Regions from separate parts of the Homo sapiens genome. Here region 1 is linked to region 2. The links come from fine-mapping of genetic effects on gene expression. A gene starts in region 2. The other region holds a variant in brackets. All regions are shown on one strand. Distances are from middle to middle.

Region 1 (8,323 bases), 100 kb before region 2:
CTGGGCATGGTGGCGGGTGCCTGTAATCCCAGCTACTTGGGAGCCTGAGGCAGGAGAATTGCTTTAACCCAGGAGGCAGAGGTTACAGTGAGCAGAGGTGGTGCCATTGCACTCCAGCCTGGGCGACAGAGCAAGACTGTCTCAAAAGAGAAAAAAAAATTACCACTGACTTGTTTCTATCAATTCTCCCCAGCAGGTAACCCTCAGTTTCTTAGTATCTTTCCAAAGTTTAAGCAAATTAAAACGTCTTCCTCACCTAGGGAGACCTAGGTATGCTGTTTTGCTGCTTGAAGCCTTTTTTTTTTTTTTTTTTTTTGAGACAAGTCTCGCTCTGTCACCCAGGCTGGAGTGCGGTGGCATCATCTCGCATCTGGGCTCACTGCAAGCTCCGCCTCCTGGGTTCAAGCCATTCTCCTGCCTCAGCCTCCCGAGTAGCTGGGACTACAGGCACCTGCCACCATGCCTGGCTAATTTTTTTTTTTTTTTTTGTATTTTTAGTAGAGATGGAGTTTCACCATGTTAGCCAGGATGGTCTCAATCTCCTGACCTCATGATCCGCCCGCCTCGGCCTCCCAGAGTGCTGGGATTACAGGCGTGAGCCACCGCACCCGGCCTGCTTGAAGTCATTTGAAGCAAAGTGTGGTGGTGGTCAGGTTTTCTTTTTAAAACATCCCAAAAAGAGTAGCTGGGGCCAGGTGTGGTGGCTCACACCTGTAATCCCAGCACTTTGGGAGGCCAAGGCAGGAGAATCATCTTAGGTCAAGAGTTCAAGACCAGCCCGGCCAACATGGTGAAACCCTGTCTCCACCAAAAATACAAAAATCAGTCTGTGTAGTGGCACACGCCTGTAATCCAGCTACTTGGGAGGCTGAGGCAGGAGAATTGCTTGAACCCAGGAGGCGGAGGTTGCAGTGAGCCGAGATCACATCACTGCACTCCTGCCTGGGCCACAGCGTGAGACTGTCTCAAAAAAAAAAAAAAAAAAAAAAAAAAAAAAAAAAAAAAAGATATATGCCAGGTGCGATAGGCCGGATGCGGTGGCTTAAACCTGTTATCCCAGCACTTTGGGAGGCACACGTGGGAGGATAGTTTGAGGCCAGGAATTCAAGACCAGCCTGGCCAACATAATGAGACTCCCATTTCTACAAAAAGTGTATTTAAATTAGCTGAGCGTGGTGGTGCATACCTGTAACCCCAGCTACTCAGGAGGCTGAGATGGGAGGATCACTTGAGCCTGGGAGGTTGAGGGTGCAGTGAGCTGTAATCGCACCACTGCACTCCAGCCTGGGTGTCAGAGTGAGATCTTATCTGCAAAAAAGTAGATGAAGGCTGGGGGTGGTGGCTTATGCCTATAATCCCAGCACTTTGGGAGGCTGAGGTGGGCAGATCACCTGAGGTCAGGAGTTGGAGACCAGCCTGGCCAACATGGTGAAACCCCATCTTTACTAAAAATACAAAAATTAGCTGGGTGTGGTGGTGTGCACCTGTAATCCCAGCTACTCAGGAGGCTGAGGCAGGAGAACCACTTGAACCTGGGAGGCGGAGGTTGCAGTGAGCCGAGATTGCACCACTGCACTCCAGCTTGGGTGACAGAGTGAGACTCTGTCTCAAAAAAACAAGTAGATTGATATACCTTCTTCTACAGGTGGGGATAATCATGCTGTAGGATTGCAAACCCTTAACTGCAACAACATTTAACTGTTTTGCTGCCAACCTCCTTCTAGATAGGAAACGTCTTACAGATTGTGGAGAGCTGCAGCCAACTCCAGGGTTTCCAGTCTGAGGAGGTGAGTTTCTGGGTCTTCAAGGAGGGGAGGGGACAGGCTTGGGTGAAGGCTCATCCTCAAAGCTCTCACTGCCTTGTTCCTGCCGGGCCAGGTCTCACCTGCTGAACCAGCCAGCCCTGGGACGCCCCAGCAGGTGAAGGACAAGACCCTGCAGGAGTCGAGCTTTGAGGACATCATGGCCACCAGGTCCTCCGACTGGCTCCGGCGGCCTTTGGGGGAGGACAATCAGCCGGAGACCCAGCTGTTCTGGGACAAGGAGCCTTGGTTTTGGCACGACACTCTGACCGAGCAACTCTGGCGGATTTTTGCCGGCGTCCACGATGAGAAGGCAAAGCCCAGAGACAGACGTGAGTGTCCCTGAGGGTGAGGGGGAAGGGGCAGCCACAGGCTGCGTCTCAGGGGCTGTGCAGTGAACCCTGCTGTTCTCTCTGTCCCCCTCCTCCTCTCCGTTGTCATGGTGACAGAGCAGGCACCAGGCCTGGTGAGTAAACAACCTCAGCTCTATCCAGAGGGGTGGGCTTCCGGGCAGGCGGTTGGGCTCCCCCAGGTCAGGGCACTGGGGTTCCTGTGGGATTTGTCTTCCTTCCATCCTGCCCCTCGGGTCCCCCGGGGGGGACTTGGGTGATCCAGGAGGCTATACTGGAGTAGCCCAGGACCCACAGCCCAGGGCTTCCAGGACCCTATACCCTGACTCTCTCTCTGCAACTCTGCCTGGACCCGCAGACAGGACCCCAGGCAGCTGACAAGCCCTGTGCAAGCTGCCCAGGAATCCGAGGTCTTCTGGTCCTAACAGGCAGGTCAGCAGGCCTGATGAGACTTTTCCATTTTCCAGGGGCAGGAAAGCAAGGCACCAGGATCCTGTGACCCAGGAACAGACCCATGTCCTGAAGATGCCTCCAGTAATCCCAGCGGGCAGGGGCCGACCGACTCCAGGCGGGATGGGGTGGGGGCATCCTGTGCTGAGGAGCCAATGCAAGCCGCTTAGCCCCTCTTGTCTCCCCACTAGCCCCCAGGCCACCTGAGGCCTCCTCCAGTCCCCCTGAGGGTTCCCAAGACAGGAACACAAGTTGGGGTGTGGTCCAGGTGAGACCCAGGCCCGAGCTGGTAGCCCAGCGTGAAGGCTGCCCAGGGTGGGGTAGAGGAGGTGGGCACAGATGTGCGGGGAGGCTGGGGGCAGCTGTGATCTCCCCCGCCTGCAGGAGCCTCCTGGAAGAGCCTCTCGGTTTCTACAGTCCATGTAAGTGTCTGCACTGTTTGCTTTTGGGCGGGGTGAGGGGCAGCGGGAATTCCTTCCTGTCTATACCTCTGTTCCCGACACATAGAGGGGAACAGAGGTGTAAGACTTTCTTCCCCTTTTCCCATCACTACTCTGCCATCCTCTCCAACAGCCGCTGCAGAGGCTGGGTAGAAAAGTGCAGTGTTAGGCCGGGCGCGGTGGCTCACGCCTGTAATCCCAGCACTTTGGGAGGCCGAGGCGGGCAGATCACGAGGTCAGGAGATTGAGAACATCCTGGGTAACACGGTGAAACCCCGTCTCTACTAAAAATACAAAAAAAATTAGCCAGGCGTGGTGGTGGGTGCCTTTAGTCCCAGCTACTCGGGAGGCTGAGGCAGGAGAATGG[C/T]GTGAACCCGGGAGGTGGAGGTTGCAGTGAGTTGAGATCGCGCCACTGCACTCCAGCCTGAGTGACAGCAAGACTCCGTCTCAAAAAAAAAGTGCAGTGTTAGGCTCACAGGATCGCCGCCCCAACACTGGGCTCAAGGCATTTGGGGAAGACTTTTTCATGGAAGGGGATGGGGTGTAGCTGTGTTAGAACTGGATGCAGATTGTCCCAACCTTGTGGAGTGATGCTGGGAGAACCCAGGTGGGGCAAAGAAGGCTTTTCTGGGGAAGGAGCATAATAGCTAGGACCATAAAGGATGAATAGGAGTTCTTCCTCCTGGGGCAAAGCAGTCTAGGAAGAAGGCAGAAGTATGTGGAGGGCTGTGGCAAAGGGACAATACTTGAAGGAATATGAGCAGGACATTGAGGGGAGTCTAGAGGGTAAAACAAGGCCTGAGAGAGGGACCCCAAAATCTGAAAAAGAAGCCCCTCTAGGCCTTGATGTGTGGCTCCCACTGGGCAAAGGGGCTCACAAGCAGGTCAGTTACCCCAAGGCCTCCCCTCCCAAGATCCTGGGACCCTGAGGACTTTGAAGATGCATGGAAGAGGCCAGATGCCTTGCCCGGGCAGTCAAAGAGACTCGCCGTCCCGTGCAAACTGGAAAAGATGCGGATCTTGGCACACGGGGAGCTCGTGCTCGCCACGGCCATCAGCAGCTTCACGCGGCACGTGTTCACCTGTGGCAGAAGAGGCATCAAGGTGTGGAGCCTGACTGGACAGGTGGCTGAGGACAGGTTCCCTGAGAGCCACCTGCCTATACAGGTGAGGACGGCCTTGGTTTCCAGGGATGCAGGGCTTCTGGGAACAGGGGGTTTGAGGTTTGAGTCTGGCAGAGCCCAGATCGTGGAGAGAGGGCTTCCAGGGAAAAGGGGCATAATAGCTAGGAACCTAAAGGATGAATAGGAGTTCGCTCTCATGAGGCAAAGCAGTCCAGGCAGAATGCCACGGGGGGCGACAGCTCACAGTGACTCTGCCCATCCCAGACCCCTGGGGCCTTCCTGCGCACCTGCCTGCTGTCCTCAAACAGCAGGAGCCTGCTCACCGGTGGCTACAACCTGGCCAGCGTGAGCGTGTGGGACCTGGCGGCGCCCTCCCTGCATGTGAAGGAGCAGTTGCCCTGTGCAGGTCTCAACTGCCAGGCCCTGGATGCCAACCTGGATGCCAACCTGGCCTTCGCCAGCTTCACCAGTGGTGTGGTCAGGATCTGGGACCTGCGGGATCAGAGTGTGGTCAGGTGCGTTTGGGGGGTGGGAAGGGGAAGCATCCTGTGCCAGCCTCCTGTGGCCACCTCTGCCCACCTTACTGCTACCACCTCTGCCCGCCTTCCTGCCACCTCCTGAACCTGGGATATAGCACTCTCCCAGCCAAAACCCCTTGCCCCCTTGAACTTGGATTTGAGAAAGTTTAGAGGTGCGGACTTGAATCTTGGCTGGACTGCGTTCCTTGCAGCCCAGGGCATTTTACTTTTTGTCTGCCTCAGTTTCCCCACCTGGACACAGGATGTGACAGCCCCAAACTCAAAGGCTTGTTAGAGGGCAAATTTGTTGTAAAAATATAAAACAGCAGGCCAGGCCTGGTGCCTCAAACATGTAAACCCAGCACTTTGGGAGGTCAAGACGGGACAAATGCTTAAGCCCAGGAATTCGAGATTAACCTGGGTAATGAATAAAACGAATTTATTCTATTTTTATTAAATAGAATAAATTTTATTTAATAAAAATTAAATAGAATTTTTATATAGTCTATTTAAAAATATGTATATATAAATTGGCCGGGCGCAGTGGCTCACGCCTGTACTCCCAGCAGTTAGGGAGGCCGAGGCAGGCAGATCCACGAGGTCAGGAGATCAAGACCATTCTAGCTGACACGGTGAAACCCTGTCTCTACTAAAACTACAAAAAAATTAGCCAGGCGCGGTGGTGGGTACCTGTAGTCCCAGCTACTCGGGAGGCTGAGGCAGGAGAATCCCTTGAACCCGGGAGGCGGAGCTTGCGGTGAGCCGAGATCTGTGCCACTGCGTTCCCAGCCTGGGCGACAGAGCAAGACTCTGTCTCAAAAAAGAAAAAAAAATACACACATATATAAATAAATATATATATAAATACATAAATATATACATAAATATATACATAAATATATACATAAATATATACATATATAAAAAACAGTCTGGGTGCGGTGTCTCACACCTGTAATCCCAGCACTTTGGGAGGCCGAGGTGGGTGGATCACTTGAGGCCAGGAGCTCAAGACCAGCCTGGCCAACATGGCGAAACCCCCTCTCTACTAAAAAATATGAAAATTAGCCGGCGTGGTGGCACATGCCTGTAATCCCAGCTACCCCGGAGGCTGAGGCAGGAGAATCGCTTGAGAAGCGGAGTTTGTGGTGAGCCAAGATGGTGCCACTGCACTCCAGCCTGGGTCACAGAGTGAGACTCTGACTCAAAAAAAAATTTTACATACATACATACATACATACATACATACATACATATATGTATACACACACACATATTAAATATATGTAAATAGGCTGGGCATGGTGGCTCATGCCTGTAATCCCAGCACTTTGGGAAGCCGAGGCGGGCAGATCACCTGAGGTCGGGAGTTTGAGACCAGGCTAACATGGAGATACCCCATCTCTACTAAAAATACAAAATTAGTCAGGCGTGGTGGCCCATGCCTGTAATGCCAGCTACTCGGGAGGCTGAGGCAGGAGAATCGCTTGAACCCAGGAGGCAGAGGTTGCAGTGAGCTGAGATCGTGCTGCTGCACTCCAGCCTGGGCAACAAAACGAGACTCCATTTCAAAAAAAAAAAAAATACGTATATATATATATATATATACACACACACACACACACACACACACACACATATATATAATATATGTATTTATAACATATAAGATATCTATCAGCATATGTTTGCAGGAAGCAATGGCTGACGTAAAATACAGCACACCACCCGCCCGGCACTATTCCCCTTCCCTGCTTGAAGGGATTCCTGTAGACCTGCCTCAGAGCTCGGGTGGACTCAGGGTGGAAGAGGCAAGGGGAGGCCTAGGTGAGGCCAAGGGGAGGCCCAGGCGGACGGAGAAGGGAGGCTGAGGGCTGGGAGGGGCCGGCACTAGATCCTGTGTCTGTTTTCTGCCAACTTTGACACTCTGTGCAGGCAGAGATTTTTGGGTGGTGGCACTGTCCCTTTCATGCCCAAATGTAGTGACTGGTGTTTCCGGGGGCCCAAACCTCAGAGTCTTGACCTGATTGCCTCCCGATGTCCCTTCTGGCCAGGGACCTCAAGGGTTATCCTGATGGAGTCAAGAGTATCGTGGTCAAGGGCTACAACATCTGGACTGGGGGTCCGGATGCCTGTCTGCGGTGCTGGGACCAGAGGACCATCATGAAACCTCTGGAGTACCAATTCAAGTCTCAGGTGCGGAGGCCGGGATGGGGTCTGCTTGGCCAGGCATCCTCTGGTCCTCAGATTAAAAAATGAGGTTGAGGCCGGGCTCCGTGGCTCACGCCTATAATCCTAGCACTTTGGGAGGCCAAGGTGGGTGGATCACCTGAGGTCAGGAGTTTGAGACCAGCGTGGCCAACATAGTGAAACCCCATCTCCACTAAAAATACAAAAATCAGAGCTGGGCGCAGAGGCTCACACCTGTAATCCCAGCACTTTTGGAGGCCGAGGAGGGCAAATCACCTGAGGTCGGGAGTTCAAGACGAGCCTGACCAACATGGTGAAACCCCGTCTCTACTAAAAATACAAAATTGGCCAGGCATGGTGGCACATGCCTATAATCCCAGCTAGTCGGGAGGCTGAGGCAGGAGAATCGCTTAAACCCGGGAGGTGGAGGTTGTGGTGAGCCGAGATCGTGCCATTGCACTCCAGGCTGCGCAATAAGAGCGAAACTCTGTCTCAAAAACAAATGAGGTTGGCCAGGCACAGTGGCGTATGCCTGCAATCCCACCACTTTGGGAGGCAGAAGTGGGAGGAAGACTTGAGCCCAGGAGTTTGAGACCAGCCTGGGCAACATAGTGAGACCCTGTTTCTACAAAAAATAAAAATAAAAATTAGCTGAGCATGGTGGCACGTACCTGGGGTCGCAGCTAGTTGGGAGGCTGAGGTGAGAGAATGGCTTGAGCCCGGGGAGGCTGAGGCCACAGTGAACTGTGATCATACCAGTGACTGTAGTCCAGCCTGGGTGACAGAGTGAGACCCTGTCTCAAAAAAAAAAAAAAGGGGGGGAGGCGGGTGGGGGGGGGGGAGGATGAACTCTGGGAAGGAAAAAAGGTAGTGGTTCTAAGTCTCACTGATGCTCCAAACACAGAGATCATTAGAAATATTCTTTGCAGGCCGGGCGCAGTGTCTCACGCCTGTAATCCCAGCCCTTTGGGAGGCCAAGGCGGGTGGATCATTTGAGGTCAGAAGTTCAAGAACAGCCTGACCAACATGGTGAAACCCCGTCTCTACTAAAAAAAAAAAAAAAAAAAAAAAAAAACAGAATAATTAGCCAGGCATGGTGGCGCATGCCTGTAGTCCCAGCTACTCAAGAGGCTGAGGCGGGAGAATCGCTTAAACCCCAGGAGGCAGACGTTGTCGTAAGCCGAGATCGTACCATTGTACTCCAGCCCGGCAACAGAGCGAGACTCCGTCTCAAAATAAACACTCATGCTGTATCAGGTGCAAAGTAGGGAAGACTCTCCATTTTACACACCAACAAACTGAGGCACAGATACGAAGTTGCTTGTCCCAGGGCTGCACAGCTAGGAAGGGGTCAGTCACCCGGCCTCCAGGATAGGTCCCCAGGCTCCTGCCTGCTTCCTGGGCCAGGCTGGGACCTAACCAGGTTCCTCCCTCCCCACTGCCCATTAC
Region 2 (8,323 bases):
TGATGTGGGGGTGCCTGTAGTCCCAGTTACTGGGGAGGCTGAGATGGGAGAATTGCTTGAGCCTGGGAGGTGGAGGTTGCAGTGAGCCGAGATCATGCCATTGATTGCACTCCAGCCTGGGCGACAGAGCAAGACTGTCTCAAAAAAAAAAAGTGAGCTAATCTTCCCACACACCCAAGGAACTGATAAACGGAGACTTTGACCCTCCCTTTGCCCTCTTATCTCAAGACAAGGGAGAAGGGTCTATCAAGGTGTACCTCTGAGGATAAGGGATAGGCTCCTGACATTTGGAAACTGGGAAGGGCCAGGTAGAGGGAGGAGGTGGTGGGGAGGTCAGGCAGTGTCAGGGGCTGGGAGAGGCGTGGCAGTCAGCGAAGTTGTATGCAATGGTGCCTCAGTTTCCTCCTCTTTAAAATGAATTTCCAGCTCCAAGAACAATCTAGGCTCTAGTATTCATTTTTAGTATCTTCCCTTTGTCTTTTTTTTTTTTTTTTTTTTTTTTTTTTTGTAGAGACAGGGTCTCACTATGTTGAGACCCTGGTCTTGAACTCCTGGGCTCAAGTGATCCTCCTGCCTTGGCCTCCCAAAGTCCTGGGATTATAGGCGTGAGCAACTGCACCTGCCTTAATTTCAGTTTTTGAGACAGGGTCTTATTCTGTTACCCAGGCTGGAGTGCAGTGGTGCAATCATGGCTCACTGCAGCATTGACTTCTTGGGCTCAAGTGATCCTCCCACCTTGGCCTCCTGAATAGCTGGGACTACAGGCACACGCTACCATGCCCGGCTAATTTTATTTCATTATTTTATTTTATTTTTTGAGGTGGAGTCTCACTGTGTCGCCCAGGCTGGAGTGCAGTGGTGCGATCTCAGCTCACTGCAACTTCCACCTCCTGGTGTGATCTCGGCTCACTGCAACCTCCACCTCCTGGGTTCAAGCGATTCTCCTGCCTCCGCCTCCGGAGTAGCTGAGAATATAGGTGCAAGCCACCATGCCCGGCTAATTTTTGTATTTTTAGTAGAGACGGGGTTTCACCATGTTGGCCAGGCTGGTCTTGAACTCCTGACCTCAGGTCATCTGCCTGCCTTGGCCTCCCAAAGTGCTGGGATGACAGGCGTGAGCCACCGTGCCCAGCAAATTTTATTTTTACTTTTGTAGGGTGTGTACGTGGGGGTCTTGCTATGCTGCCCAGGCTGGTCTCAAACTCCTGGCCTCAAGCAGTCCTCCTGCCTTGGCCTCCCAAAGTATTGGGATTACAGGCATGAGCCACTCTTCCCAGACCAGGCTTTTTAATTCCTTTCCCATCATTCCAAACACATCGATTGAGCACCTAGTGTGTGTTAGAGCCTCATTCTAGGTCTCTTTCTGTAAGGGACCACATAGGAAATCTTTGAAGAGTTCTTGTAATGCTGCCCTGTGGGGTAAGAGTAGCCACACTCAGTATGGAAATCAATGGATGTGACTGGCTTCCAACAAAATCCTATACATGGACACTGAAATTTGAGTTCCATATAATTTTTATGTCTACCTAAATATTACTTTCTTTTGATTTTTTAAAACCGTTTAAAAATGTAAAAGCCAGGCTGGGCGCGGTGGCTCACGCCTGTAATCCCAACACTTTAGGAGGCCGAGGCAGGCAGATCACGAGGTCAGGGGATTGAGGCCATCCTGGCTAACACGGTGAAACCCCATCTCTACTAAAAAATACAACAAAAAAATTAGCCAGGCGTGGTGGCGGGTGCCGTAGTCCCAGCTACTCGGGAGGCTGAGGCAGTAGAATGGCGTGAACCTGGGAGGCGGAGCTTGTAGTGAGCTGACATCATGCCACTACACTCCAGCCTGGGCGACAGAGCAAGACTCCGTCTCAAAAAAAAAAAAAGTAAAAGCCATTCGAAGCTTATGGACCATAGGGCCGAGGGTTGTGGATTGCCAATCTTTGTTCTAGGTGAACCAGACAGGCTCTGACCTCATGGAGCTGATGGCCAATTTGGGAAACTGAGTCTACAGAGAGGCACCCAGAAGAATATATAATTTCTTTCTTTTTTTTTTTTGGAGATGGAGTTTCACGCTTGTCGCCCAGGCTGGAGTGCAGTGGTGTGGTCTCGGCTCACTGCAACGTCCACCTCCTGGGTTCAAGAGATTCTGCTGCCTCAGCCTCCCGAGTAGCTGGGATTACAGGTGTCCACTAATTTTTTTGTATTTTTAATAGAGACAGGGTTTTGCCATGTTAGCCAGGCTGGTCTCAAACTGCTGACCTCAAGTGATCTGCCTGCCTTGGCCTTCCAAAGTGCTGGGATTACAGGCATGAGCCACCACACCCTGCTTTTTTGTTTTTTTTTTTTTTTGGACGGAGTTTCTCTCTTGTTGCCCAGGCTGGAGTGCAATGGTGCGATCTCAGCTCACTGCAACCTCCGCCTCCCGGGTTCAAGAGGTTCTCCTGCCTCAGTCTCCCAAGTAGCTGGGATTACAGGCATGAGCCACCGTGCCTGGCTAATTCTGTATTTTCAGTAGAGACGGGGTTTCTCCATGGTGGTCAGGCTGGTCTTGAACTCCCGATCTCAGGTGATCTGCCCACCTCGGCCTCCCAAAGTGCTGGGATTACAGGCATAAACCACCACACCCGGCCTTTTTTTTTTTTTTTTTTTGAGACGGAGTCTCGTTCTGTTGCCCTGGCTGGAATGCAGTGGTATGATCCCAGCTCCCTGCAACCTCTGCCTCCCGGGTTCAAGCGATTCTCCTGCCTCAGCAAAAGTAGCTGAGACCACAGGTGCCCGCCACCACGCCCGGGTCATTTTTGTATTTTTAGTAGAGAGGGGGTTTCACCATGTTGGCCACTCTGGTGTTTTGTTTTGTTTTGTTTTGATACAGGGTCTCACTCTTGTGTCCCAGGCTGGAGTGCAGTAGCCCCATCTCCGCTCACTGCAACATCTGCCTCCTGGGCTCAAGTGATCCTCTCAGCCTCCCGAGTAGCTGGGATTACAGGCATGTGCCACCACACCCATCTAATTTTTTGTATTTTTAGTAGAGATGGGGTTTCGCCATGTTATCTAGGCTGGTCTCGAACTCCTGAGCTCAAGCGGTCCACCTGCCTTGGCCTCCCAAGTACTGGGATTACCGGCAGGAGCTGCCGCACCTGGCCAGAACATACAATTTCAAGTTGTGGCTCAAGAGAAGGTACCTGGCTTGGTCTGAGGAGTCAGGAGAAGTCTCCCTGAGGAGCTGACGTCTGAATTGAAACGGAGAGGATGCTCAGGGGTTGGCCAAGGAGGCCAGAGAGGGAAAAGGGTTTTCAGTAGTCAGCAAGGTGGTGGGAACACACGTTTTTATAAATTCTGGTGGCCACTTCCATTTCATCTGCAAAGTAAGGATAAAGATATGGCTGGGTGAGGTGGCTCACATCTATAATCCCAGCGCTTTGGGAGGCCGAGGAGGGCAGATCACTAGAGGCCAGGAGTTTGAGACCAGCCTGGCCAACGTGGCGAAACCCGCTCTCTACTAAAAATACAAAATTAGCCAGGCATGGTGGCGCGCCTGTAATCCCAGCTACTTGGGAGGGTGAGGCAGGAGAATCACTAGAGCCTGTGAGGCAGAGGGTGCAATGAACCTAGATCACGCCCCTGCACTCCAGCCTGGGCGACAGAGCAAGACTCCATCTCAAAAAAAGAAGAAGAAAAAAAAGATATCCCTTGGGTAGGGTTAGCTTAACGGGCTTACAGCAGTGCCTGGTATCCTGTAGGCATTTCATGAATGCGTATACCTGGCCTGGAATGGTGCAGGCACTGCAGTAAGGCCTGATTGACACCTGATGGACAGCAGGCACTCCATTAATCTCTGGTCCGTGCCTGGCATATAGAATGTGTCCCATTAATGCCTGATACACAGTAGGTGTCCCATTAACGCTTTTTAATTTTTTTTTTTGAGACAGAGTCTCGCTCTGTCGCCCAGGCTGGAGTGCAGTGGCATGATCTCAGCTCACTGCAAGTTCCGTCTCCCGGGTTCACGCCATTCTCCTGCCTCAGCCTCCCGAGTAGCTGGGACTACAGGCGCCCGCCACCACGCCCGGCTAATTTTTTGTATTTTTAGTAGAGACGGGGTTTCACCGTGTCAGCCAGGATAGTCTCGATCTCCTGACCTCGTGATCCACCCGCCTCGGCCTCCCAAAGTGCTGGGATTACAGGCGTGAGCCACCGCGCCCGGCCCTCTTTTTTTTTTTTTTTCTTTGGAGACGGAGTTTCGTTCTTGTTGCCCAGGCTGGAGTGCAATGGCGTGATCTCGGCTCACTGCAACCTCCGCCTCCTGGGTTCAAGTGATTCTCCTGCCTCAGCCTCCCGAGTAGCTGGGATTACGGGCGTGCACCACCACGCCGGGCTAATTTTGTAGTTTTAGTAGAGACGGCGTTTCTCCCTGTTGGTCAGGCTGGTCTCGAACTCCAGACCTCAGGTGATCCGCCCGCCTCGGCCTTCCAAAGTGCTGGGATTACAGGCGTGAGCCACCGCGCCCGACCTCCATTAACGCTTTTTAATGGATGAGTGAAGGTTCCTGTCAGGCAATGTCAGGGCGCTTCCCGGGGGCAGCGACTGCTGCCCAGGCACCTGGAGACCCAGAGAGCGCAGCGGCCGCGTGCGCGCCTCCGCCACCGCGCCTGGGCCGAGCCGAGCGGGACCGAGCGGGGCCGAACGGAGCCGAGCGGAGCCGAGCCTGGCCGGGCCGAGTCCGCCACATTCCCACAATCCCGGGCGGCCCCGCCCCGGCTCCCGGCTGCGCGTCCCCCTTCCCACGTCGGCGCAACCAAACCCGCGGGCCCCCCGCCCTCGCCCCGCCCCGCCCCTTTCGCGCCCGCCGACGCCCCGCCCAGGCCGCTAGTCCCGCCCCCATGGTGGGCGCGCTTGGCCGCCGGCCCCTCCCATTGGCCGCACCGTCTGCCCGTCGCGGGCTGCGCTCCCAGCCTGCTAGGTTGTCCGGCGCTGTCGCTCGGTTGCGGCGGCTGCGGTTGGCGGTGGCTGCGGCGGCGGCGCGGGCTGAGTGCGGCCGCGCGGGAGTCCGCGGCTGGCGCGGCCCGAGCGGGGACCCGGCGGCTCGCCAGGCGGCGGCCGAGGCGGGGCGGGCCGGCCCGGGGCCGAGGGCCGGTGGCCGAGGCCGGAGGGCCGCGGCGGGCGGCGGCCGAGGCGGCTCCGGCCAGGGCCGGGCCGGGGGCCGGGGGGCGGCGGCGGGCAGGCGGCCGCGTCGGCCGGGGCCGGGACGATGACTCTGGAGTCCATGATGGCGTGTTGCCTGAGCGATGAGGTGAAGGAGTCCAAGCGGATCAACGCCGAGATCGAGAAGCAGCTGCGGCGGGACAAGCGCGACGCCCGGCGCGAGCTCAAGCTGCTGCTGCTCGGTGAGTGCGGCCCCCGGGCCTGCCGGCTGCGGGCCCTGCCCTGCCTGTGCCTGCCCTGCCTGTCCGGGTCGGGCCGGGACCCTCCGGGGTCAGCCCTGCCTGTGCCGTCCGGGTCGCGAGACCCTCCGGGGTCAGCCCTGCCTGTGCCTTCCCTGCCTGTCCGGGTCGCGGGACCCTCGAGTGTCAGCCCTGCCTGTGCCTTCACTGCCTGTCCGGGTCGGGGCGGGGCCCTCCGGGATCAGCCCTGCCTGTGTCGTCTGGGTCGGCTCGGGACCCTCTGGGGTCAGCCCTGCCTTTGCTGTCTAGGTCGGCACCTGGGACCCTCCGGGGTCAGCTGCGGGCCCCTGATTTCTTTGGGGTCAGCCCCTGCCTTAACTGTTCATGTTGGCACCTGGGACTCTCCGGTGTCAGCCTGTGTCTGTCCTGTCTGGATCAGGCCCCCGATCACTCCTAGGTCAGCTCCCAGCTTCTGCTGTCTACATTGGGCCTCCAGGACTCTTCAGGATTTGCCCTCTGTTCCTTCTCAAGGGACCAGTCCCTCCCTGCACAGGGACCTTCTGACCTTACCCCACCGGAGTACCCACCCCTCGCTACCCCTTCAGGGCCAGACCTTTGGGCTGTAACCCACAGGGCACACTCACCCCTCACTGCTCAGGGCCCCGCGTTGACCCTTCCCTCCAGGCAGAGCCCTGTACACTCCATGCAGGCCCTGTACCCTCCATGCAGGCCCTGTACACCCCCCCATCCCCCCGAAGACTCCTCCGTGTCCCCTATCCCCACATTCCCTTCAGGGCCATTCTCCTGCCTTCCTGTTCCGGGAAACCCCGTACTCCTCTTGGCTGGAATGCACCCTGTGGGAAAAAGACAGTCTTTCCTCTCCTCAGGGTTCCGCTCAGCTGAGGGTGGGGCGGTTGACACCTGAGGGAGCCTTTGCTTGTTGTCCCAAGCAGCTATCTCGGCAGCCTCCCCCGCCCCCTTCCTTAGAGTCCTGGTGGGAGCCACGCTGAGTCCTCGTTGAGAGCAGCCCCCCACCTGCCGGCTCCTCCCCACCGTCCTGGAGAAGGTTTGCTGGTGAACCTCCTTCTCCCCAAGGCACACCTGCTGCAGGGAGCCAGTCGGGCCAGCTGTAAAGTGTTGTCACTCCAAATAAGGGCCCCTTCAGTGGTTTACAAAACAGAAGCTCTTGCCCTGCCCCGCCCCTGCCCTCCCGAGCTCCTAGGTTAGCTCCTGGGCCGGGGGCGGGGCGGTGGGGAAGGTCGGAAATGCGTGAGAGGCAGCGGTGACGGAGGAGGGGGCGTGCTGGTGGCGGTGGCTCTTGGGGAGGAGGCAGGTCGCATGTTGTGTGGGGAACACGTTGCCTCTCCTGCCGTGAGCCTCTTAGGGCCCTCCGTGTCCCGGGTTACAGAGGTGCCTTGGATGAAACGCCTTCCTGATTTTTTTCCCCAAACTTGTGTTTTGATTTACCTAAGGGTTCTAAAATGGGCCATCTTTCCAGGGGGCCGCGGGTAGGCAGAGCCGTGGTCCTCACGTTTGGAGGAAATGTGCAGTGCGGCCCGCGTGGTGGCACTTTGCACAGAGTGGCACTGGCTGGCTTTTGTAGTGGGTCGTGGACTTTGTTTGGATGGAGGGGAGTTAGGAATTACTGGTGTCATAAAGATCTTACCAGATGGCCTTGCCCTGTGGCTCTGTGACCTCCAGAACCCCCGCCGCCATCCCTGCATGCACCCGGTCTTCTGTGCCTGCACTTTGGACTTGAGATTGACACGGGGTTCAAGGACGAAGGTCAGGGGCTCCCGTGTCTGCCGCCTTGGCTGCTTGGAGCAAGTCTGGAAGTGATGCGGCCCTTCCCGCATCCTCTGTCCAGTGCCCGCCTGTGGCCCGGGGGTGTCTGCTGCAGGAGCACCTGTGTCTGCAGTCCCACCCCCTCCCACTCTGTGAGCCTGAAAGTTGACCCCTATCAGCCTGTAAGACGGGAGGTTGCTGTCAGGCTCAGGGCCAGGCGTGGCAGATAGGACAGTGAGGAAGATGTGAGCTCACGTGCGACCCAAGGAGGACTGGTGTCAGTGCCACGCAGAGAGCCGGGGCTGTCAGGGGGTTGGGAGGGCTTCACACCCAAGGTGTTGGAGCCAGGGACCCCTTTGGGAATCTGATGCGACAGACCCTCAGAAAACTTCCCGTCCAAGCAACCTTGCATCCCAGCTGGAGGGCCCCTTGCTGGGAGGACTTTGACCACCTGAGGTCCAGGGGCTGGGGCCTCAGGGTGCAGGGGAGGGGACCTCTGTCAGGCTCCCTGCCTGCTTGTGGGAACTCATTCCACTCTCCCAGTAGGCCAGCCCCGAGCTTGCGATTGCCCCCGTTTTTCAGGGAGCAGCTAGAGGGTGGGGCCGAGGCTCCCCGGAAGGAAGGGGCTGTTGGGCTGCAGCAGGTGGCTATGGCGCCTGCGGCCCACGGAATGTTCAGAGACCTCTGGGTGGAGGTCCTGGCACTCCGCAGGAGGCCCAGCCAAGCTGGGTCTGCCTCTCCCTAGAATTCTTTCCTCCCCTGCCCCTTAGCAGTGGGGGCTCCATCCCTCCTCCCCCATGGCTCCCGTACAGCGTTGTGGAGTGGATGTCGGGGAGGGAGGCAGGGGCCTGCCACCACACCCCTGTGGCATCTGGGGCCCAGGAGGGTCTCGTTTATGTGGGTGGTGCTGGTTTCTTCCAGGCTCTGGGGCAGCAGGGCTCCAGGGCCCTGCCCTGACTCCTGGGTTTGCAACCAGGTGGAGCATGTTCTGGAAGAACGCCGCGTCTGCTCGCTCTCATCCACTGCCTCCCTGGGGCTGCACACGGCCTGTGAGGTCGGTCAGCCTGGCGAGGACATTCCGTGCCCCGTTTTCGGGGTGGGGGGGACCTTACGGAGCCCTAGAGCTGGACGGGGCTCCGGCTGCCGTGCCGCCTCTCCCGCGGCGG

Evidence for each region. PIP is the estimated chance that this variant, and not a neighbour inherited with it, causes the effect. A credible set is the group of variants that fine-mapping cannot tell apart.
Region 1: its variant is the best candidate, but not a certain one, in a credible set for the expression of GNA11 in whole blood (INTERVAL, PIP 0.59).

Annotation. Positions count from the first base shown.
Region 1 is chr19:2,985,105-2,993,427 of GRCh38, forward strand. It overlaps TLE6 (TLE family member 6, subcortical maternal complex member), which reads left to right. Exons shown (of 17, transcript NM_001143986.2): 6 at 1,725-1,787; 7 at 1,879-2,134; 8 at 2,252-2,268; 9 at 2,620-2,686; 10 at 2,794-2,870; 11 at 2,987-3,024; 12 at 3,957-4,209; 13 at 4,431-4,681; 14 at 6,739-6,880. Among named protein-coding and RNA genes, the nearest start is that of TLE6, 12 kb to the left of the region's middle. The variant C/T (reference allele first, on the strand shown) is at 3,410.
Region 2 is chr19:3,089,413-3,097,735 of GRCh38, forward strand. GNA11 (G protein subunit alpha 11) reads left to right here and starts at 4,950. Exons shown (of 7, transcript NM_002067.5): 1 at 4,950-5,375. The coding sequence starts at 5,240. RefSeq lists silencers at 4,619-4,868, 4,889-5,008, 5,329-5,458, 6,613-6,702 and enhancers at 4,755-5,742, 5,743-6,728, 6,729-7,716.